Linked DNA regions of Homo sapiens. The protein of the gene in region 2 interacts with the protein of the main gene of each other region in a pairwise test. Each region holds a gene or a part of one and is shown on either strand. Other genes may lie near its edges. The genes, in order: MSRB3, EFEMP1 and DDIAS.

Region 1 (8,534 bases), on a different chromosome or scaffold from region 2:
GACCGGCCTGGTCAACATAGGGATACCCTGTCTCTACAAAAATTAAAAAAAAATTAGCTGGGCATAGTGGCTCACTCCTGTGGTCTCAGCTACTTGGGAAGCCAAAGTGGGAGGATTGCTTGGGCCAGGGAGATCGAGGCTGTGGTAAGCCGTGATCACACCACTGCATTTTTGGTTCTGTCATAATCTGGTCACAATCCCTCTAATTTATCTGCACCTGTATAATTAATTTATCATAGTTATGGATTTGGTTGATGAATTTGATTCCCATGTTTAGCTTCTCGGTAAAATTATTAAGTTGGACAGTTTCCATGTCTCTTCTAACTCCAAGATCCTATAATGTTGTTTTTGTTTATGTAACTCTTCAGAGCCACCTACTACATGTGGTTCAAACTTCTGATTGTCAGCCTGTGACTTGCTATACATGTCAAACTGGCCTACCTTAGCCAGATGTGATGGGTGTGGTCCAGTGTTGGAGAGTCCGGATCTGTCTCAGGATTGTGTTAATACCTGGAACATGCACAAAGATACATACATACCTGGACAGATTCCGTGTTAAGCTTCTATCACTTTTTCTTCCTCATCTAATAGCAGAAAGTGCTGATTATGTCATAGGGTAAATGCCTAACTGGTTTTTGGGGATAGTTAAGCCCAGGCCTTAAGACAGTTTGATATTCAGTTTTGTTATTTAGGTCTGGGTTAGGGATACCGCCAGAGAGCATCCAAACATTTCTGTGGTTGGGAAGGCTAGTTATCTGTGAGCATTCCAGATGAAATAGCCTATAATGGGTTATCACCTTTTGATCTTACCTCAGAGAAGATTGAATTGGATCTACCTATCTGATTTAGCAGAATTAAACTGGATTTGGATGGAAGGGTAATCAGCTATTTAATTTGCCAGTTGTTAGTTAGCATTTCTTCTTGCTGTATCTCAAGGATTTACTTTGAATATTCTGTATTTTCTCTTTCCTGCCCATGATGGGTTTTCCTTTTAAAATGCTCAGCACAGGCTGGGTGTGGTGGCTCACGCCTGTAATCCCAGCACTTTAGGAGGCCGAGGCAGGCAGATCACCTGAGGTCAGGAGTTTGAGACCAGCCTGGCCAACACGGTGAAACCCTGTCTCTATGAAAAATACAAAAATTAGCCGGGCATGGTGGTGGGCACCTGTAATCCCAACTACTCAGGAGGCTGAGGCAGGAGAATAACTTGAACCAGGGAAGCGGATGTTGCAGTGAGCCAAGATCATGCCACTGCACTCCAGCCTGGGCGACAAGAGCAAAACTCTGTCTCAAAAAAAAAAAAAAATTGCTCAGCACAGTCCCTCATCCATGTTCATATATTTGTCTGTATAGTATGCTGAAGTCATGTTTATGGCTTTAAGGGAAGTACAAAAAAGGAAAGTATAGAAAAGATCAAACAAACGCATCGAACAATTGACTTTATGAAAGATTTTGGTTATTGCCTCATTTAAGCTTCTATTGCAGTAACAGAAATGAACTAGTTTTAGCAAAAAGGAAGAAAGGAATTTGTTGGAAAACCATTGGAAGTCAAATGCAGGCAGACCTCATTTAGGGCCTGAGATAAGGGACTGGAAAAATCTAGAACATTCCCTGTCTCTAGTTTGCTTCACTGTTTTTTCTTTGCTGGTGTTTTTTTTTTTTTTTTTCTCTTCATGGTTAGATGTGGCTGCTCAGCAGCTCCTGAGTATTTATGTGTCCCTTCATAAGGAGGGACTATATTATTGAGCCTTGATCCTAAATTCCTGGGAGGTAGAACCTGATAGACACAGTTTAGGTCACATGGTTGACCTAGATTTTCCCTAAAGTCTCTTCTAATTCTAGAGTATCTGATGTACGTAGTACAGCCATGTAGATGGTTTGATTTTGCATTTTTCCATTTTATGTTATGAGGTTATAGTCCTTAAAATGAATTGTGAACATTTTCTCTGATAACAACTAATTCACTCTGCAAATAATCATCTGCATATTTTCAGGAATTCACTGAATAAAATGCTGACCTCCAGTGGCTCTTTAGGATAAGTTCATTAAAACTATAAGTGGTAGAGATATTTGAAACAGTAATAGCTTAGGGACTGAGAATTTATCAGTTGTTTTCCTATTTCTCACACATATCTAACATTTTCTGTCTCTACCTTTCCTTTAGGCTGTTCCTACTGCCTGGACCTCTTCTCTATCACAACAGGTTGAAGTCTTTAAGGCCTCTGTCAGATGGTAGTTTGTGACATTTTCTTCATACCACAGAATTTGTAATTTCCTTGTGCTTCTAAGGTGTTTTGGACCATGGTTGGAGTACAAGTTTTACTATATTGTCTTGTGTTGTAGTTAAGTCCATATATATTCAACTTCACTAAACTATAAATTCCATATGTCAGTGAATCACCTAGAATTTTTTTTTTTTTTTGAGATAGGATCTCACTCTGTCACCCAGACTGGAGTGCAGTGGCACACTCATGGCTCACTGCAGCCTCGAACTCCCTAGAATCAGGTGATTCTCCCACTCCAGCCTTCTGAGTAGCTGGGCCTACAGGCACCTGCCACCATGCCCAGCTAATTGTAGTATTTTTTTGTAGAGATGGGGTTTCACCATGTTGGCCAGGCTGGTCTTAAACTCCTGACCTCAAGTGATCTGCCAGCCTTGGCTTCCCAAAGTGCTAGGATTACAGGCATGAGCCACTGCACTCAGCTAGAAGAATTCTGATAGGCTCTGAGCATCCATTGTTCCAGGTATAACAATTCTGACTTTTTCAGATACTCTGATGCTTTTATGGTATCCTGCTTGCTGCTGTCTTCTTTTGAAATTGGAGTTCAATCACTCTGCTTTTCTTTCTTAATACTTGTCTGTTTCCTAGATTTTACATGCTTTTCCATGAACACTAATTTCCTGTATGAAGAGGGAATATACAAATGATAGGATGCTTTCCTGTAACTGAGATGGCAGGGGGAAGGAGAGGACAGCAACTCATACAGAAGGAAATCAGCTTTTGTTGAGCACCCAGAATTTACCAGATCAGATAGAGAGGACAGGTGTAGAAGAAAATGAGCATGTATAAAGTGGAATAGTGGGACAATAAAGTACAAATATGGAAAATTAAGTGGAAGGCTTTTAATGCTGTTAGGGAACTTGGATTGGGTTAGTAAGTTATGAGACTGACATTTTTGATCCTTGAAATGTCATAATCAGAGGTGAATTATAGGTTATATAATCCAATAGTTTAGATAATTAATTAAATTGGGAAATAAGTCATAGGACCAATAAAGAAGTGTTTTGAGAGTTTCTCTTAAGGAATGAAGACCTAACGAGAATAGCGGCACCGCAGTAGAAGTGTTGCTAAAGTACATTGGACAGAAATAAGCAATTGGATATTGGGAAAGAAAGGGATGAATAAAAGGTGACATGAGATGTTAAGCCTGGGTGATGGAGAGAATGTGATCTCAGCAGGTTTGTGGGTGGAGGTAAAAATAAGTTTTGTTCTAGATCTCTTGCTTTTGAGGTGCTGGTAGGATATTCCTGTGGAGATGTGTAGTAGAATCCGAAGTGTGAAACTGGAACTTGGAGGGAGAGATCAAGGCTGGAAATAAAACATGTATGAGTAAGGAGAGTTAAAAATAAAGAGAAAAAGAGAGCATTTGTTAGCTGGAGTAAAAGGAAGGGTACAGGAAAAGCATCATAGAGAAGAGAGAATTTGATCTGACTTTAAAAGATGCCGAGTCGGTATATGGCATTCTGTTCACGAGCTTTCCTTGTTGAGGGGACATCACATTTACTAACTTGAGAGATAATACATGGGAAGTGTTGGACAAAGGATACTGCATCCAGAATGACCTTTCTAAACTACAAAATCATTTCCCCTCTTTCCTGCTTAACCCTCCCTCAGTGGCTTCTTATCTTTCTTCAGATAAAGGACTGACTCCTAAATGTCTTCATCATCACCAATTTGAACACACATTGTGTCTCACACTCCTCCTCGTTCCTCACTCTTCTTCCCCAAGACTGGACAGAATGTGAAGAAGATATGATTTCCACCAGATGGAGTACTCTTTATACTTTTTTGGGGTCCTTTATGGTTACTTTTTGTGGCCATGGTCAGGTTCTTATCCATAAAATAATTATTGATAACTTCCTAATGTAAAATGAAAAATAATGATAAATCACATACTTCCCTCATTTTTACAGAATTCCTTGCTTGCCTTATCTCTTCAAGTGTTGACTGCAAGGTTCCTGTACACTTACTTGAGTTGGCCACTCCGGTCACTATACCCTGATCTCTGACACTTGGCCGTGGTAGCCTGGAGCAGCATTGTTACTGGGCATTGCTGTGATTGGGTTACCCAGCTGTGCTGATGTGGAAACCTCAGGGCTATTTATTGATACTTGGTTTCCTAAAGGAAAGTTGAGGGAATGTATTTTATGAGAGGGCTTTATTTACACGATTAAAGAGGTTTATAAAATGTGGAGATGAATATAGGTGAAACAGAGAAAGAATGCTGGTATAGGAGGTGTTTTCGGCTGGGTTTGGTGGCTCATACCCGTAATCCCAGCACTTTGGGAGGCTGAGGCGGGTGGATCACTTGAGTCCAGCCTGGGCGGCGTAGTGAGACCCATCTCTACAAAAACTACAAAAATTAGCTGGGCATTGTGTTGCATGCTTGTAGTCCTGGCTACTCAGGAGGCTGAGGTGAGAGGATTGCTTGAGCCCAGGAAGCAGAGGTTGCAGTGAGCCAAGATCGTGCCACTGCACTCCAGACTGGGCAATAGAGTGAGACCCTATCTCAGAAAACAAACAAAAATCCCCAAAAAACCAGGAAGTGTTTTCTTAGGGTCTAGTTCCCAGGCGAATGGTATATCCTGATTCTAGGTTTATAAAAATAGTATATTATTCATAACATTTGTCTAAAGTGACACATTTACATACAGTATATAGTATTGAGTAATTTCCAACTCTTTAAAAATAATGGAGACCCTTTCATGTAGTAGTAACTATGTTTTTAGTATCTGTTGACTGAGAAAATACGTAACAGCAAAAGCTACTATAAAACTTTGAAATAAGTTCTTGTAAATGTAAAAAAAATTCTCATATATTTGGAAAGTATACATGTGGAAATTATGACTTATAGAGTCTATGGACACTTGATTTCTTGCTTTATGGATACTCTCAGGAAGTTCTGGTCTCAACTTTGAGTATCTCATTGTCCTCTTACTTTAGAATGTGGGGTATGGGGGAAAACTTCTATTTGAAAATTTGAGCCATAGCGGAAATTTTGGAATGACAGGGAAACACCTTCTCAGAATCCTCTTACAATAAAATTTATATATGTTATGCCAGACAATGTACTTTATACTAAGACTGGACTTTTAAATAGTCTCATGGATTAGAAGTCAGATACAATAAATAAATACTTTTTAAAAATTATATTTTTAGGTATATGAGCATTGTTGTTGGGACTACAGTGCTATTTTAAAGTGAAATTTAGTTGATTTGCATGTGAGTATACACCTACAGGTCTCTGTTATAGCCGTGACATGTCTTCTGTTACTATAAATTACATAACAAATCCTTATGGTTTCTTGGGTCACTTATTTTATTTAAAGACAAAAACATCTTTCAGTACATATGTAAGACTTAAGGCATTATTGAAAATAAGCCTGTGCTACATGGTAGAATCTATTAAAAAAAAAAAAACACTCAGGCAAGGCACAGTAGTTCATGCCTGTAATCCCACCACTTTGGGAGGCAAGGAAGGAGGATCACTTGAGGCCAGGAGGTCGAGACCAGCCTGAGCAACATAGGAAGACCTAGCCTCTACTAAAAATTAAAAAAAGAAATTAGCAAGGTGTGCTGGCATGCACCTGTGGTCCCACCTCCTCTGGAGGCTGAGGTGGGAGAATCGCTTGAGCCCAGGAGTTCGAGGCTACAGTGAGCTATGATTGCACCACTGTACTCCATTCTGGGTGACAGAGCGAGACCCTTTCTCAAAAAAAAAAAAAAAAAAAAAAAAAGCAAAACCAAAAACCGAAAAACAACTCAGGACAGTCTTTGTATAAATTAGATAGCCCTAAATTTTATGTTTGTTCTTTCATTTCTCTTTTTTTTTTTTTTTTGGCTGCCGCCCAGGCTGGAGTGCCATGGCAGGATCATAGCACACTGCACACTGTAGCCTTGACCTCCTGGGCTCAAGTGATCCTCCCACCTCAGCCTCCTGAGTAGCTAGGACTACAGGCTTGTGTCATCATGCATGGCTAATTTTTTAAAAAAAATTTATGTAGAGATAGGGTCTCCCTATGTTTCCCAGGTAGGTCTTGAACTCCTGGACTTAAGCAGTCCTCCCACCTTGGCCTCTCAAAGTGCTGGGATTATAGGCATGAGCCTCCACGCCCAGTACATTTCTTTTGTTTTTATTGTGTTTGATTGTCAGAGAACCTGAGTTTGGTTGGGGTTGAGAGAGAACTATAGGGCCTATTATAGGTGAATACTTATTTTATCTTAGATTAGTGGTGTGTAGCTAAGGAAAGGTAAGGTCATATCTTCCTGTAACAGTCCAGATTAGATAGGGAAATGGGTGAAAAGCCACAAGTTGTTTTGCAACTCTGGTCTCACAGTAATTGAGAGCAAAAAGGAAAAAGTGCACTGTAGTCCCCCTTGTTTCTGATTTTGTGGGGTGTGAATATGCCTTCTAGTCAGATCGCCTTAGGGGGCCAGGAAGAGGAGGGTTGAGGGCAGAGCATGTTTACCTGCGTGCAGAGCCACTTGAAAAATTATAGGCTCATTTACATATTTGCATCCTTGTGTATGTGTTTGTGTTGCAGGGGAGTCAGTGTAGTATTATGAAAAGAACATTTGACAGTGAATTGGAAAACTAGGTTTTTCTAGTCTTGTTTTTGCCTGAGTCGTTTAAGCTTCTTGTGCCTCAGTTTTCATATCTGCAAAATGAATGAATTGGACTGGGTAATACCTGGTGTTGCTTTAAGATTCTGTAGGCTGGGCATGGTGGCTCTTGCCTGTAATCTCAGCACTTTGGGAGGCTGAGTCGGGCGGATCACGAGGTCAAGAGATTGAGACCATCCTGACCAGCATGGTGAAACCCCATCTCTACTAAAAATACCAAAATTAGCTGGGCGTGGTGGTGTGTGCCTGTAGTCCCAGCTACTCAGGAGGCTGAGGCAGGAGAATCACTTGAACCCGGGAGGCGGAGGTTCCAGTGAGCCAAGATCATGCCACAGCACTCCAGCCTGGCAAGAGAGCGAGACCCCGTCCCCCCCGCAAAAAAAAAAAAAAAAGATTCTGTAATTTAAGGATTATTTTAAAGTCTCCAACTTTCTGTAATTTTTAATGGAAAAATATAGTTAATACAGTATGCAAAATTATGTCTTTTTAAAAAATATTTTGTTCAAGTTGACTATCTTGTGCGATTCACTATAAGTGTTACACTGCATCTAAGATCTTATGTTTGAACTTCGTAGCCTAGTGTGCCCAGTAATTTGAGCTACTGGCAAAGTTACATAACCCTTTTAAAGATTTAGTATTTAAAGAATAGATTACAATGTATCAGAAGCATCATATTAAATATCCCATCTGAAGTAATGGTATTAAGGACTAGAAATTATGTCTTTCTAAATGTACAGCTGGGAATTGCTTATTTATGCTTGACAATAGATTTCAGATGAGAAAAGTCCTCATTTAGCAGGATATATTACCATTGGAATTTGCCTCTGATTACCCTATTAAATATATTTAACTCTTAAGGTTGGTTAATCTGGTCTTATTTTTAAAAAAAACTTCACTGTGAGTTTTAAAGAAAAAAACTTGGCTAATTTGATGATTTTAAAAAGTATCTTCTCTTGCCTGTAAAATTCACTTATAAGATTTGTCCTTTTTATGAGAGAATATTTTATACACAAAAAAGAATATATAGTGTCTATATAAGGTATAAAGAATATTTTAAAAAAATCTGGGTACCCTCATCCAGCTTCAGAAATGAAATGTGAAAGATGCCTGTGAGACACACATTTCCTGTACTCAGAAGTACCCATAGTCCTATATTTTGTGATTATCATTGAACACAAATAACTGATAAACCTTGCTTTCTTTATAGTTTTATCATAGATGTATGTCTCTATATCATATTGTTCAGTTTTGCATATGTTAGAACATTATATAAATGTTATTGGCCGGGCGTGGTGGCTCACGCCTGTATTCCCAGCACTTTGGGAGGCTGAGGTGGGCGGATCACCTGAGGTCAGGAGTTCGAGGCTAGCCTGGCTAACAAGGCAAAACCCTGTCTCTACTAAAAATACAAAAGTTAGCCGGCATGGTGGCACGTGCCTGTAGTCCCAGCTACTCAGGTGGCTGAGGCAGGAGAATTGCTTGAACCGGGAGGCAGAGGTTGCAGTGAGCCAAGATTGTGCCATTGCACTCCAGCCTGGGTGACAGAGTGAGATTCTATCTAAAAATAAATAAATAAATAAAAGTTATCATCTGCTGTGTATCCTCTGTGACCTGCATTTTTTATCTTTT
Region 2 (8,534 bases):
GATTTCGTGGATAACAACGGAAGCCGCCATGATAATTCCAACACATTTCATCCTCCCGGCATTCATTTGTGGTCTCACACTCATTTATATCTGTAGAGATGTAGGGTCAAAGAGTTTACTAACTAAACTAATGAACTGATCTAATTAAATCATATAACTGGCAGATTCTGTTTGCAAGGAAGGAGGTGTGAGAGCATCTGGACTGTGTTCAACCTGCTTTTAGACACAAGACTGGGTGTTCATTGTATTGAATTCAGGACAGACAGAGCTGAGACATTCTAGGCAGATTAATATGTGTCATTTCATGATATTTTATCAAGCACCTATTGTTCATCTGTTGAATTCAAACCCCAATGTTAACCACTGACTCTGCCTATATAAAAGTTAAACACCAGTTCTTGTCATCAGGGACATTATAATTGAGGGAATGTGTATATGATTACTTAGAAAGTAAAATGGAATTAAGTAAGAGATAGATAAGTATACTGGGGCATGTGGAGCAGAGTTGGGTAATTTTGCCAGGGGGATTAGGGAAGGCTGAAGGAAGGAAGAGGCATCTCAACGTGGCCTTGAAGGGTGGTGGTTAGATGGAGTTTTCATGGCTGGGGCAGGGAAGGCTTTCCAAGCTGAGAAATCAGGAAGCATAAACTATGGAGGGCAGCTTATCATCTCTTTCAGGAACTTGGGAGAAAGGTAAAGGCTAGAAATCTGGTTTCAGTAAGCTGAAGCATGCTGGGAGTGGATTATACTGTCCAGAGGAAGCACAGCACAGGAAGTGAAACTATGAAGTGTTCCACCTCATAGAGCATAGCAATTTTAGGACTGTAAGGAAAAAGAGGAAGTTAAGGAAGAGGCTGTCAGTGCAGGGAGACAACCCAGGAAAAGGCAATGCCAAAGAAGTCAGAGGGAGAGAGAATCCTGGGAAGAAGGGTTGTGTTTACCTCAGGCTGGACAAAGATTGACTTTAAATTTGGGAATCAGAAGCCTCCAGATGACATCTGAGAGAACAGTTTTACTAGAGAGCCATTACATTTATAACAACAACAACAACAACAATAAAAATAAAATTAATATCTACATCTCTATGTCTGTCTCCCTTTACATTTGAATAGTGATTTATATTTTATTCAATGTAAACTTTTTCTGAATCATTCCTTCTCCACAATGAGATATTTTTATTCATGAATTTACTCATTCCATAAGTAATTTACTGAATCCTTGCTGTAAGCCAAGCATGGGCTAGGTGCTGGGATATGATCTCTTTTGAATTCTCATACCCGGTGTTCTTTTTTAAGGGCCTTTATTGCTTTCTGCTTTGCATTATTGCAATCTGCATGTCTAGCTTAACCCTTCTATTAGCTTGTAAACTCCTTGAGGGCAAGGGTTATTGTACCCATCTTTTAATCCTTTCATCACCTAGCATTAATGCAATAGAGCATCTGGCTTTTAAGAAATATTAAATTGAACTAAGTTGCTCTTCACACAAACTGTGTGGAGGTAGGTGAGAAAGATATTTCCACTTGATATGGATGAAAAACAAATAAGGGTTTAGTGGCTCATTCAAGTTCATATACTCTAAATAATTCATGCCTTGACTTTGGAGGAAAAAAAAGTATTTTAGCTTCCAAACTGGCTAAAGTTATCTGGAACTCAAGAACAGACTGGGAAAGCTAGGTAGTCTCCAAGAGACAGTTACAAAAAGTGTCTTCTTGGGCTGGCTATGGCTGAAGAAAGAAAACTTAGATTCTTCAAATGAAATCACAATTGACTTATCCTTTCAGTATTTTCCACTTTTTTGAAGAATAAAGATGCTGTTTAGGTACAGGGAAAACTAATACTTATTTGTTATATGGAGTCCAACAGAAGCAAAAGACAACCTTATAATTTCATTTATTACTTCCATTAATGTAGAGCCTAGCATAATCATCACCTTAATCATTCTGGAAGATTTTTCAGAAATTAATACTCTCAAAATATTTGATGAGTGTGTGTCTATGTGTATGTGTATTCTTTTGTCTCTCTGTCTCTCTCTCCACACACACACACACACACACACACACACACACACAGTTTTCATTTGTATAGGCCTGTGAAATGAGAACAGTTATTTCATCCACAAAATAAGTCTTTTAGAGAAAGTTAAGAATCCAAAACTTTCAATTTCATTTTATTCCTGTGGACAAGGCTCAGAAGGAACGATTTCCGTAGGAGAAAGCAATTGCTTTATACTTTAGAAGAATGCTAAGTCTTTTTCACAAAAAATGTTTTGGCTTAACCAAACATTCTGAAGCTGCATATCTTCAATATATAACATTTAGGAATCCCCCACTTACAATTTTGGTGCATTTTCCACCTTTAATTACAATAGATATAAATGTTTCCACATAGATAGGCTAGGCAGGTCGGATCCCACCGTGCATTAATCTGCTTCTGTCTTTTGCTGAGCATCAAATCAATTTTTGATCAGAAACACATAGATATTTGTTTGAAGGACTCCAGAGAAATTTGTTAAGACATTCCACTAGCTAACATTTTCTTGCATGTAATATGCATGTTGAAAGTCTCAATTAGGGTTCAGTAAGTAAAATCATTGGAATGCAATGTTTTCCCATAATTAACATTTATAAAGTCTCTAGTAACCTGGAAAGGGTTATAAAGATGTTCATTGTGCAATGAACTACATTCTGATTATGCTCATACTCAGTGGTTGGAGTCTAGTCGAAAAATTGTGTGCCTATTATAAAATCCCAGGTAATGGATTTCCTCTAAGTTAATATTTTCCTGTAAAATCATGATATAGACTGAGAATCCCCAGTGTCTCCTTTCCTTGATCTTTCTTTTCTTAACAGGATCTTTATTGTCCTTGTGTGCCTTCACTCCAACTCTGATTAAAAAGGACTCTCTACAGAAGACGTACTACTGGTCACTTACATTGGTAAGTAAATTTCATAAAAACACCTTGACCTGTACAAGCTTTATAGTTTACAAATTATTTTTATGTATGTTATTCCACTAAATTCCCACAACTCCCTTTTCCAAATGAGGAAGCTGAGGCTCAGAGTAGTTTGATAATTTGTTCAAGATTGTGCAGACTGAATACAGTGGAGCTGGGATTCAAACAGGTTTTCTGTCAAGTTTGGTCATTTTTTCATTCTTTTGTTGCTTTGTGTAAATTTAAGTGTTTGTACTAGCTTTTCCAGGATTTTCTACGTTTTTGGTTTTATCTGACAGTCCTTTCCCTGTTAAGAAAATTTTCAACTACATGCAACATTGGAGGTAGGGTCCTTTTTTTTTTTAGATCTTCCTGAGAAACTCTGAAATCATACCATTGTGGGGAGCTGCCTCTTCCACTTACGTATAGGTGTGAAGATCATCTGAATGTTTATTTTGAAACTGGACCCAAGGTCATTAGCTATTTTGGGGCTAGTAGTTTTCTCTAAAATATTCAACTATATTTTACAACATATTAGGCTGACTTTTCTCAGCACCTACATTCTTACGCAATTTATAATCCTTGTGTTTTAGAGGGCTAAGACTGGATGGAGGTATGTTTAACTCACATATTGAGCTTATGCTCTAAACTCAAACTCACAGGTGAAACATTTTAATAACTGAATCTTTTCCAGTGGATGATTTGAAGATGTATCTCAAAGAGATGATGTAGGTTACATAGAATACATATCAATATTTTATTAAAATTATTTATCTTTTAAGGACGAAAAATGTCGGCATTAGCATAGAATCACCTCTTTATGAGATGTATATATTTTATGATGAACAGGGGAAAAAAGAGCTTAAATTGTATATTGAAAGTGGGAAAAATGAAAGTCTATAGGAGAATCCTATAACTTCCTCTTGTCTCTTCCTGGCTAAAACTAAATACCTAACATATGAAAAAAAAAATAAACTTACCTTGACATGTTCTACTTCTCACCACTTGGTATCCCTGGGGGCACATACATGAGAATTTCCCAGGTTCATTGACACATTGATATTGACACAGGTAGCTTGAGGTTCTGCATTCATCAATGTCTGTTGAATTAGACAAGAGAAAGGACACAGAGTTGAAAAGTTTGTGCACCACTACTTTGGATATATATATATATATAAATTATATATATATATAAATTATAAGATTTAAAATATCTATATTAAAATAATTATATATAATTAAAATTATTTATATTTTAAGGAGGAAAAATTATATCTACCTATATATATATAAAGAGATCTGGCTTCTTGTCCTATTCCTGCTACTGTGTGACTTGGGCACATTTCTTAAGTTGCCTGGGTTTCATATATACACACACACACACACACACACACACACACATATATATTTTTTTTGTTCTGCTCAACAGTCCAGAGGAAGTAATACACTTTTGAGGTGAGCTAAAGAGAGTAAAAATATTGCAAATTCTGAAATAGAAATACAAAACTTTATAAGCAGCTAAAAGGCAAATTCTAACAATATCAGCTTATTTCCCTCTATGACTTCATAGCACAAAAAGTTTTTCTTATCATGACTTTTACTGAATCATTGCTGACAATTTGGCTAATCCTGGACCTAACTACACTACTGAATGAATTGGCTTGTGGTTGACGGCCTTCATTTTGGACTCTGCAGACCCATCCAGGATGTAGAGTTCATGTTTGTCTTCTCAGAAATTGGGTGACTTTGAAGCCAAGTTCATTTGAGCTTTGAATGCCAAGTCCCCTAACCTGTGCAAGCTTCCAGAATGACAGCTTGGCAGGATCTGACTTTCAGGGGAAGAATGCTTTGCATTTCTGAATAGTGATGTCCCTACAGTTTACTCAGAAGGGCAGAGGCAGCTGTCCTGAGGTAGCCTCTTTCAGTTTTGAGTGTAATGGCATGATGTGAGGCCTCTCTCGGTGGGGTTTGAGCTTTGTGTAAAGCTGAGTGAACCGTGAGGAGGTCAGGGACATCAAGTGTCTGTGGCATCCCCCTCAGGATGTCTAATGCCTTTTGAATTATATAACGAAATGTGCACATGCAATGGACCCTGAAGGTCATGAATCTAGTTAAATGGCCCTCCTCTTGTTCATGTGGAAAGTGAAACCCAGGCAACTCAAGAAATGTGCCCAAGTCACACAGTAGCAGGAATAGAACCAGAAACCAGATCTCCTGATTTTTATTTTAATGTTTTGACATGCACTTGGCTATTCTGAAACTTAAATGTGCACACCAGTCACCTGCAGTTTTTGTTGAATGTAGATTCAGACTCAGGAGGTCTGGGTTGCAGCCTGAGATTCTGCATTTCTCATAAGCTCCCAGGAGGTGCTGACATACCTGGTCACTGGATAACACACTGAGACGCAACATGCTAGAGCACCCTTTCTAATTATTAGAGCCAGCCTGCACCTAATATTTCAGTTATTTTTATTTCTTTTCCTTTTTCTTGGTAACACACTAAAAAGGCAATGTAACAACTGAACTACATTAACTGGATTTTAGAACAGAATTCCCATGGGTAAGCGTTTGTTTTCATAAATGGGTACATAATCAGATAAAACAACAGCAGTCACAGGAATTGGACTTTATTCCATACTATCTGGGAAGAGTTTTACCTTCACAGTTGAGCCTGTCACTGCTTAGCTCATATCCTTGATTGCACTGACAGATGAATGAACCAAGAATGTTGTAGCACTGCTGAGCACATTGATTGCTGGCATCACATTCATTTATATCTGAAAAAAAGTTTTATATATATATATATGTATATGTATATATATACACACACATATATATATAGACTTTAAACATATCCTTACTCTTTTGTACCTACGTCATCTGCTGACAAGTGAGTAATTCCCTAGCTGAATTATTTGCCCTGCAGAAGCTCACTGGAGAACATCCATTTAGGTTTCATATTTGTTGGAACAACTACAAACGTCTGTCATATACTTCTTTTGGAAATACCGAAATATTTTTTCTAGGAATGACAGTTAGTTTGATGTTTGATGAATCTTTCCAAAGGAATTTAATGCTTCTAATAAATATACACTCCGGTATCGATTTTCTTTTGTTGTTCAGATACAAAATGCCAATTCTATAAATAATTGATATAAGACACTTATACTGATATGGTCTCTCAGCATGCTGTACTGAAGATTTATCTGTGCTATTTATTACTTTTTAAATGGGTTCTGTTAAATTCCATTACAATTATAACATAAGCCTTTGAGACCCATACGGAGTTTTGCAATGCTCTAAAGCACTGAAAATATTGTGAAAAGGCATTTTTCCTACACTAGATTTTTTCCATGTCATGCCAATCTTTTAATTGTGTGCCGTGACATTGCATTCTGAAAGGGGAGAAGAGGCATGTAAAAATCAGATGCACTTTCAGTGGAAAGTTTATATACTTGAACTTGTAGTAACCCCTTTGGCACTTTCAGCATTATATCACACACTGCTGATTGACTGGTGTATGTATATCAATTGATTTGTAGTTTTAAATTTGTTGATCTATCCACAGAGGAGAACTAAAACCAAAGTTAAAAAGTTTTCTGTTCACATCTTGATGTGTTTTAAGACACAGATTGGTTATTATCTTTTAAGCTTTATGATTGCTGAAGGGAAGTCGATGGAAACTATTTACTCAAGAACATAGAAAACTGGAAATACTGCAACATGGCATGGGGTTTCCTTTTGTGAAGACAGAAATCAGCAAGTTCTCAAAAGGCTTACCTACGCAGGTATAGTTGTTTGCTGCCAATTGAAACCCAGGACTGCACTGGCAATAAAATGAGCCTGGTGTATTCACGCATCTTTGGTGGCAATATGGAGGGATGGTACATTCATCTATGTCTAGGTTATCAGGCACACACACAAAGAGAACCAAATTATTGAATTAGCATTCTCTGAAAAGCATTATCTAGAAAACCTATGTAGAGAAAATCTCTTTTTAAAAGTAATAATTTCCTATTTTGTTAAAATTAGGGTATATGTATTTTAAATATACTTTGTATTCTGAGTTAAGAAGTTAAGAACAAAGACTCAATGTTCATGCCATTCAGTGGTAAATAAACTTGGTGGGTGGATTGAGATTTAAAGAAAACAAAATAATTGAGACTATTGCATATATATATAAGATGTCAGTTTGGGGAGCTAAAAGCTTATATATAATTACAGAAGTAAAAAAGAACTACTGAAGTGCATGGTGCAGCACAAAACAAAGAAGAAAGAGTTGTGGGCTGTGCTCAACTGGTGACCTTGGCTAAGTCACTTACGCCTTCAGTATCTTGGTTTTTCTTCTATAAGATGTGGATAGCAAGGCTTGCCATGTGTATCTTAGGACGTTTTTGTGTATCAAATAAAAGAACACTGTGGAAGAATTGGATGCTAAATAAGTTACCTCTTGAGAGTGCTCTTTTGACACTTTGATGAAGTGTTCCAGCCTGTGTCCTTCTCATATAAATATTTTCAACTATAAAATGCTCAACTAAGAACTTGCTAAGTAGGACTAACATCTTAGAAGCATAATAAAATTTCATTAATTCATGATTCTACACTTTGTGACAACTTCAACATGGCATGTGTAATTTAAAACAACCATTATGCATATACAATGTAATGCTATATAGTGACACTGCCTTGTGGTAAAACAAAACAAAACAAAACAAACCTTTATGCTGGGCTCTTTTGGTACTTTAATAACTAAAATTAAGTAGTGTGCTCAAGTGGCCTCAGGATAACCTGAGTCTGAATCTTTGTTCTGGCAATTACTAGCTTGGTCTTAACTTCTCGAGCTTGCATTTCCTCTTCTGTGAGTAGAATTATTGGGAGGGTTACAAGACATAATGTAGGCAAAGTTACTGGCACAAAGCAAGTAAACATAAATGGGAGCTAATAAGCTGCAAGATATATTTGATTTAACTTGAATACTGAAATAAATAGTAAGAAGATATTCACATGGCTTTTCCCCTTACTTTGGTTCAGGTGTCCATTCAAATGTCACCTCCTCAGGGTGGCCACCTTTCCCACCAATATCAAATAGGTTCTTCTGCCCTATCTATTCCCTTACCTTGCTTTAGACTTCTTTGTAGTCCTTAACAGTACTCGACATTGTGTTATGTGTTTATTTGCTTCTTGTGTGTTCCCTCACTATAGTGCATGACATTCTCCCCTTGAGGTGGAGGTAGAGGGTTTTTTGTCTGTTCATTGTTAGATCTGGAATAGGGCCTGGCATAGTAGTAGGTGTTCAATAAACATTATTCGAATAAATCGAAACTTCACACTAATTAAGAGCAATTTTAGCATAGTGCTTCCTAGTCCTCAGTACTATCATCAGGTGCTAGTATTGATAGCTAATTTGTATGAATGGTATTATACTTTCTAATAGCTCCACGAGGGCTATGAATTTGTAAAATTTGTTTACTATTATCCCAGTTCCTAGAACAATGCTTGTTACACAGTAAGCCCTCAATAACTATTTGGTGAATATGTGACGCATGTCTTCTTAACTAATAAACATTCATTGAACCATTCTTATTTGCTGGTACTGTGTTTG
Region 3 (8,534 bases), on a different chromosome or scaffold from region 2:
AATGGACTAGAAAGACTGGTAAGCTACTCATCAGAAGGCATGAGTTCCAGACCTGATTAACTTCTCTGAGTGGATCAGATAATGTTGCAAAAGCACTTTGCAAACTGTAAAGCAGTCAAATGAACTCAAACTGGATTATGAACTTTAAGATAGGATTCACATCTTATACTTTTATGTTCTCTTCAGCCCCATCCCCAGATGCCAGTTTACACTAAATACTTAATTGAACTTTTTCTCTAGGATCTAACATAGAATAAGAATTAGTTTAGATTTTCTAATCTAACCCAGTTTTTCTAGATCTTCTAGTCTAGCCGGAAGAAGAAAAAAAGATGTGTTGGTATGTGCATGTATGGGCACGGTTTTTCATAAATGATTAAGTTGCCTTCTGAGAACTTGATTATGAGGTAGTTAAGCTGAAAGATCACCAAATAATGGATTAGAGTAAAGAATTGCAAAATCATCCAAATGAGACTAAGATGCTGTCAGGCCTTGGGGATTTAACTATAACCATGTTTATCACAAGTGTTACACACCATGAGATAGTCTCAATGACTAGGCTACTGGTTTTCAAGTGTGGGCAATTTGGCCATTACCTGGGAACTTAAAATGCAGATTCTCAGGCCCTTATCCCAGACTTACTGAATCAAACTCTGGAGTTGGAGCCCAGCAATCTGTTTTATCAAGCCTTCTGGGTGATTTTGATATATGATAAAGTTTGAGAAATACTTGTCTAGTATGAAAATGGGATGCAGAGGTTGTAATCAATGAGTTTATATATCTGGTACCACTGACAAAACCATCTCTAGAATGAAAAATGCATCAGGCATTAGCTTGATTCCATTAAATAGTTGATTCACCAAACAGCTCTTCTTCAAGCAACTTTCTGTTTATAATTTTAGTATAATATGAGGTTATACCAAATATACAAATATGGGCTTCTGATATGTCCCTTCCCTGTGATGGTAATTTTTCGTGGTAAATTAGTAGAACATCTTTGGATTACAGTTCAGCTCCCCATATGGCTTGTCTAAAAGGAGAGAAAGCAAGTATTCCAGAATATCCCATGGTAAATTAGATATGTACTATAGTGTGTCCACATGGACCCCACATATTTTAATAAGCATAAGTCTATTGGAGCCTTCATTCCTGGACATTGACCTAGGTAATCCCTGGTATGTGCCCTTTGAAAAATCAAAGGCCAACTGAGGCCTTAATTAGTTCTGCCCCAACACTTACACTTTTGTCCCTCTTTCTACCCTCATTTCTACTTTTATGTGTGAGAGATTTAAAGAAAGCAAGATTTTCTTTGTATATTATTGCTAATGTCCCTATCCAGCATTTTTATAGTATTTATTGATTTTTTTCTAATTATAAAAGCAATACACTTAGATTGTATTTATTGATTTTTTCTAATTATAAAAGCAATACACTTAGAAAATATCTTAAATATATAAAGAAAATAAAAATCGCCCTTAACACTACCACCCTGAGAAAATACTTTTTAAAAATAAGATTATATACTTTCCTAACTATCCTCTTCTCTTTCCCCATTCCTCCCATCAAAAACTAAATTAGTCCCCCTGTTATATTTTCTCATGGCACTATGCATTTCCAAAATAGAATTTGCCAGAATTGCAGTTAAATTTTTTGTGTGATTATTTTAATGTCTGTCTCTTACACTAGACTGTAAGTCTAGTGACTAGGTAGGGACCTTGTCTGTTTGTCCATCAATCACACTATCCCCACCTAGCATTTAGCAGCTGCACAACTAATAACTGATGAATAAATAAATATGTTCGCATATTAAATTGGGATATGGTTTGCTGTGATGGAGCTGAAAGAAATGTAATACTATATCATCATCCTTCCCAATAAATGTGAAAAGAAAGATAAACTGCAAAAGATACCACATATGAAATTGTTCCCAAGTGTATCATCATATCTTCCTAATTTTAGTATTTACTTATTCCTGATGTTTCATTCAATTATTCATCAGACATGCATCCACTATACTGCAAGTCAAGCAGTAGAGAGAGACAGAGAAATAAAACAAAGTATAAAAACACCCCCAGAGCCTAGGTAAATAAATAAATAAATACAAAAATAAACTAGGTGGCAAGTATGAAGGAAATATTATGAAAACACCAAAGGAAATTAATTAACAGTAACTGTCTGAAACGATCTTATTCTATTATTGTCCAACAGACAATAAATGGGAAGCCTTTTTGCCATTTTCTGGGGTTCACCAGGTGAAATACAAATAGTAAAAATACTAATGATCCCTTTCATTACAGTTCTCAAATTTGCTGTTTTTATAGATTTTTAGACTTACTTATTTGATCCACTAGAGGGCAGTAAACCCTTAAATAAAGACAATGTAACCAACCTTCCTTTAAAAGTATAGTAATAAGTGCTGGCACAATTAATTTAGAAATGAACCCAAAATTTCCTGCTTATTTAAGTTTTTCATTTATTAGTGAGTTGTCTGCCCAATTAGCAATTTTTTTTAGGACAGACAGTATCTTATTTTCACTTAGCCCAGTGTACGAGTCATGTTACAAGTTTATTACATTTCCTAAAGTTTGAATAACAATTGTGTAAAGAACATGATTTGATGAATGCCCATATTGTTGTGGTACAGTATAAAATTCTGTTTTAGAGCCCTAAAGAAAATAGTCTCTGCTCACAATATGAACAGAAGTAAAAAAATTAGAAGTGAGGATAAGATGTAAGTAATGATTAAAATAAGTATGAAATAAGGTACTATATATGAAACTAGGCTGTGTACTTCGTATACAAATAGAAGATAATTTTATGATTTGGTAAAATTGTGTTTTATATTTAACGCTATGTGACAAAATTGTGGCTTGGGAAGAGGAAATGCAAATCATGAAGATTAATATCTGAAGTTCAGATTGACAATTTCTGAGCTTGGCACTGAAGATATAAACAGATAGTCCTTCTACGATCTTACTTTGAGTCCAGGAAAAACAAGCCATATTGAACAGATAAATTTAATATAATGTGGCATGTGATGAATTAAAGAGTAATTTAACTTCTGGGAAAACGTCCTAGAAAAGAAGACTTCTAAGAAGGATCTTAAAGAATAATAAGCATTACCAAGAGAATGAAAGCATTTTAGAGAGAAGAATGGAAAAAAGCAAAGGCATAGAAATGTGAAACATATTGTGGGGGTGGGGAAGCAAGGAACACAACTCAGATTGTTTCTCTTGGCATAAATTACTAGCACATAAAGAGCAAAAAGAAAGTTAAGAGAATAGGCATTAGGGAGAATAAAACCAAATAGACAATACACTACAATAGACAAAACAAATGGTAGGACTACAGAGGTACAATAGTATATGGTGTAGAAAAAAAGAAAAGCCATTCCCTTTGTTAATAAAGAAAGACTTTTTAGGGGAACTTCAAATGAAATAGGAAGAAAATTCTGGTTATCGTATGGCGTCTGCCTACTCTGTTGTAAAAATTTTCTTGAATTGCAAAATTCTGCTTATAGTTCTTCATTCATGCAATAAATTTTGTTTTGAGACTAGTCTTTGTTGCCCAGGCTGGAGTGCAGTGGCGCAATACCGCGCACTGCAGCCTCAATCTCCCAGACTCAAGTGACCTTCCCACCTCAGCCTCCTGAGTAGCTGGAACTACAAGCATGCACCACCATGCCCAGCTAATATTTTTTATTATTTGTAGAGATGAGTTCTTGCTGTGTTGCCCATGCTGGTCTCAAACTGGTGGGCTCAAGCAATCCTCCCACCTTGGCCTCCCAAAGTGCTGGGATTATAGGCCTGATCCACCACACCTGGCCCCATTCAATAAATATTTATTGTGAACTTACTGTGTACTGAGCACTGTTCTAAGCACTGGGGTTACAGTAGAGAACAGGGTGGACTAGGTCCCCGTCTTTATGAAACTTAGGCTAGTGATGGGTAGATGAACAAAAATAAGTAAGCAAAGACATACATAGGATGACTATCCAGCAGGGTTAGTACCATGAAGGATAAAACAGGTGATGCCATAGAAACTAAGAGGAAGGAGGATTCTACTTGAGCTAAAGTGGGGCTCTCTGAAGGGATAACATTAGAGTTACAGATTGAAGGACAATAAAGAACCGACTATTCCAAGACCTAAGGGAAGAATATCGTAGCCAAAGAGAATAGTAAGCACAAAAGCCTGAGAAGGGAAATCGTTTGGTGTGCTTGAGGAGCAGAAAGAAGGCCAGCATGGCTTGAAATACAGTGATTGAGGAGGAGAGTGGTACAAAGTGAGGTCAGGGATTGGCAAGATCTACATGACCCAGGGCTGCACAGACCATTGTGAGATATTGAGGCTTCATTCTAAATAGCAGGATTTTAAGCAGGTAAGAGACAGCATGTTCAGGAGTGAGCTTTATGCTCTTTTAGCTCCCCTAACTCACAGGTAGATGTACCTCCATACTAAACCCTACACTAAATTGGATTTTAGAATGTGGAGGACAATGCCTTTGTTGACATAACATCATTTGTTATGTTAACTAAAAGTTATAGGAGGCCTTTGTTTTGGACTAAGCTCCTGCACTAGGCCCCAGTGGACCAGACTAAAAATCAAAATAGAGTCATTTATACTTAAAGTTCCACCTCACCAAATCAAAACTACATTGTTATCTGACCTTCCTAGAACTCAGAAGAGAGAAATAACCAAATTTCCCACATGTGCCAGTTTCAATTGTCATAACAACGAACTTCGCTCTGCCTTTGATGCTTACAACAAAAAGTAGCCTTATGTTAACCAGTTATTCCTGTATTTTTCTGTTCCTCTGTTCCCACTTTAGGAGGAAAGTAACTTTGAAATGACCAAGCTGCTTTTTGTTCTTTGTTTCTACTTTCTTTAGCCCTTCTCTTTCTGTAAAACTGAACTTCTCTGCTCAGCCCCTTGGGTCACTTACTCTATTTTATGGAATAAAGTATTTCCCGATTCTAGAATTGTTACAGGAAAGTAGTCCCAATTCAGACCCCCAGAGAGGCTTCTTTGATCTCGCACAAGAAAGAATTCAGGGCAAGTCCATAAAGTGAGAGCAAGTTTATTAGGGAAGTAAAGGAATAAAAGACATAGAACAGCCCCGAGGGCTGCTGGCTGCCCATTTTTATGGTTATTTCTTGATGATGTGCTAAACAAGGGGTGGATTATTTGTGCCTCCCCCTTTTAGACCATATAGGGTAACTTCCTGACGTTGCCATGGCATTTGTAAACTGTCATGGCGCTGGTGGCAGTGTAGCAGTGAGGACAACCAGAGGTCACTCTCATCACCATCTTAGTTTTGGTGGGTTTTAGCAGGCTTCTTTACTGCAACCTGTTTTATCAGCGAGGCCTTTATAACCTGTATTTTGTGCCGACCTCATATCTTATCCTATGACTTAGAATGCCTTAACCGTCTGGGAATTCAGCCCAGTATGTCTCAGCTTCATTTTACCCAGCCTCTAGACAAGATGGAGTTGCTTTTTTATTCAAACACATCTGACAGAATCATAAATAAAGCCAATTAAGATCTTTCACAAAATTGTTGTAATTTTGTCTTTTGACAGTTGCAATGGCAAGGAATTTGAGGTTTTAGCACTTACAATGGCAATTTTCTTTGACCCTTCTTTCTGCCTTTCCTTTGTATCCTGTATTACCTACCCTACCATGTCCTTTGAGATTGCCATGTAGCCTAAGGTGACAACCAAATCTAGGAATACATAATCGGCTTTGGCAGAACCTTACTAATGTATATATAAGAGTCCCAACAAGGATAGCAAAAAATTAGGATTAGCGTTCTCTTTTCTGTGCTCCCTTCAGTAATACAGATTAGTGATTTATTTAAATTATTTATCTTTCATCTGTAAATTTCCATCTTATTACCTTGAGTGGCAAGATTTTATTTTTATAGAAATGTTATTTTGATTGACTATCAGAATTAGTATCACTTTAACATCTCCCTTCCATAGTCACCACATTTCTATGTTTGTCATCATCTTTAGAGTACTATACCGAAAAGATTTTATTATTTTAAAACCAGTGACCTCCACTTTGTCAGTTTGCTGATGCCAGTGTCAAAAACAGCATCACCCATTTCAGAATTGAAAGTTTTTGCCATGTGTTTAAAAATGAAAGTTTCTTAATACAGCTTTATCTCAAACAGTTACAAAGACCTTTGTTGTAAGGCATGTATTTTATGTTATATGTTTTATGTTATGCTAATCCATTTAAAAAATTAGTAAACAAACCAACCTTTTTTTTTTTTTTTTTTTGAGACAGAGTTTCACTCTGTGGCCCAGGCTGGAGTGCAGTGGCATGATCTCGGCTCACTGCAACCTCCGCCTCCCAGGTTCAAGCAATTCTGCCTCAGTATCCTGAGTAGCTGGGATTACAGGTGCACACCAGGCTAATTTTGTATATTTTTGATAGAGATGGGGTTTCACCATTTTGGTGAGACTGATCTCAAACTCTTGACCTCAGATGATGTGCCTACCTCGGCCTCCCAAAGTGCTGGGATTATAGGCGTGAGCTACCACACCCTGCCACAGATCAAGCTTTTAATTTTTTCTCTCTCTCTCTCTTTTTTTTTTTTTTTTTTTTTTTTTTTGAGAACAAGTCTCACTCTTTCACCCAGGCTGGAGTGCAGTGCCATGAATACAGCTCACTTCAGTCTTTACCTCCTGGGCTCAGGTGATCCTCCCACCTCAGCCTCCCAAGTAGCTGGGACCACAAGCTCATACTACCACGCCTGACTAATTTTTTTTGTTTTTTGGAGAGATGAGGTCTCACCGTGTTGCCCAGGCTGAATTTTTAAAAAGAAAGTATAAAGAGGAGAACATTGCTACAGGCATACCTTGGAGATATTGTGGGTTGTGTTTCTGACCACTGCAATAAAGCAAATATTGCAGTAAAGCAAGTCACACAAATTTTTTGGTTTCCCAGTGCATATATTAATAAAATGTTTACACTATACTGTAGTCTAAGTATGCAATAGCATTATGTCTAAAAAATACATCTTAATTAAAAAACACTTTATTATTAAAAAATGTTAATGATCATCTGAGCCTTCAATGAGTCATAATTTTTTGTGGTGGAGGGTCTTGCCTCAGTGTTGATGGTTGCTGACTGCTTGGGGTGGTGGTTGCTGAAGGTTGGGGTTGCAGTGGCAATTTCTTAAAATAAGACAACATTGAAGTTTGCTGCATTGATTATTCCTTTCACAAAAGATTTTTCTGTACCATGTAATGCTGTTTGATAGCGTTTTACTCACAGTAGAACTTCTTTCAGAATTGGAGTCAATCTTCTCAAACCCTGCCACTGCTTATCAACTAAGCTTATGGAATATTCTAAATTCTTTGTTGTAATTTCAACAATGTTCACAGCATCCTCACCAGGAGTAGATTCCGTATCAAGAAACTACTCTCTTTGTTTATCCATAAAAAGCAACTCGTCATAAGTTCATGCCTTATCATGAGATTGCAGCAATTGAGTCACATCTTCAGGCTCCACTTTTTAATTCTAGATCTCTTGCTATTCCACCACATCTGCAGTCACTTCCTCCACTGAAGGCTTGAACCCCTCAAAGTCATCCATGAGGACTGGAATCAGCTTCTTCCAAACTCCAATTAGTGTGGATATTTTGACTTCCTCCCATAAATCATGAATGTTCTTATTAGCTTCTAGCATGGTGAAACCTTTTCAGAAGATTTTCAACTTACTTTGCCCAGATCCATCAGAATAAGCATTATCTATGGCAGCTATGGCCTTAGGAAATGTGTTTCTGAAATAATAAGACTTGAAAGTCAAAGTGACTCATTGATCCATGAGTAGAGAATGGATGTGTTAACAGGTATGAAAACAATATCAATCTCCTTGTGCATCTCATCAGAGCTCTTGGGTGACCAGGTGCGTTGTCAATGAGCATTAATATGTTGAAAGGAATCTTTTTTTCTGAGCAGTAGGTCTCAACAGTGGGCTTAAAATATTCAGTAAATCATGCCATAAACAGATGTGCTGTCATCCAGGCTTTCTTCTTCCATTTCTAGAGCACAAGCAGAGTAGATTCAGCATAATCCTTAAGGGCCACAGGATTTTTGGAATGGCAAATGAGCACTGGTGTCAGTATCAAGACACCAGCTGCATTCACCCCTAACAAGAGAGTTAGCCTGTTCTTTGAAGCCTTGAAGCCAGGCACTGACTTCTCTAGCTATGAAAGTCCTAGATGTCATTTTCCTCCCATATAAGTCTGTTGTGTCTACATTTAAAATCTGTTGTTTAGTGTAGCCACCATCATCAACTAGTTAAGATCTACTTATCTTAACTAGATCTTTTGGATAACTTTCTGCAGCTTCTACATCAGCGCTTGCTGCTTTACCTTGCAGCAAGTTATGTTTTATGTTTTGGAGGTGGCTTCTTTTCCTAAACTTCAAGAACCAGCCTCTGCTAGCTTCAAGCATTTTTTTCTGCAGCTTCCTCAACTCTCTCAGCCTTCATAGAATTGAAGAGCATTAGGGTATTACTCTGGA

What was found.
Region 1: the proteins of EFEMP1 (region 2) and MSRB3 interact in binary tests that used the Homo sapiens proteins (3 or more experiments, as listed by UniProt).
Region 3: the proteins of EFEMP1 (region 2) and DDIAS interact in a two-hybrid assay, tested with the Homo sapiens proteins (one study listed by BioGRID).

The regions. Positions count from the first base shown.
Region 1 is NC_000012.12:65,281,027-65,289,560, forward strand, and holds part of MSRB3 (methionine-R-sulfoxide reductase B3 isoform 2 precursor), read left to right. Parts: intron 1-8,534. UniProt on the Homo sapiens protein: Catalyzes the reduction of free and protein-bound methionine sulfoxide to methionine. Isoform 2 is essential for hearing.
Region 2 is NC_000002.12:55,871,034-55,879,567, forward strand, and holds part of EFEMP1 (EGF-containing fibulin-like extracellular matrix protein 1 precursor), read right to left. Parts: intron 6,833-8,534; coding exon 6,713-6,832; intron 6,653-6,712; exon of another isoform or gene 6,584-6,652; intron 5,710-6,583; coding exon 5,590-5,709; intron 4,033-5,589; coding exon 3,913-4,032; intron 2,936-3,912; exon of another isoform or gene 2,850-2,935; intron 91-2,849; coding exon 1-90. UniProt on the Homo sapiens protein: Binds EGFR, the EGF receptor, inducing EGFR autophosphorylation and the activation of downstream signaling pathways. May play a role in cell adhesion and migration. May function as a negative regulator of chondrocyte differentiation.
Region 3 is NC_000011.10:82,904,018-82,912,551, forward strand, and holds part of DDIAS (DNA damage-induced apoptosis suppressor protein), read left to right. Parts: intron 1-8,534. UniProt on the Homo sapiens protein: May be an anti-apoptotic protein involved in DNA repair or cell survival.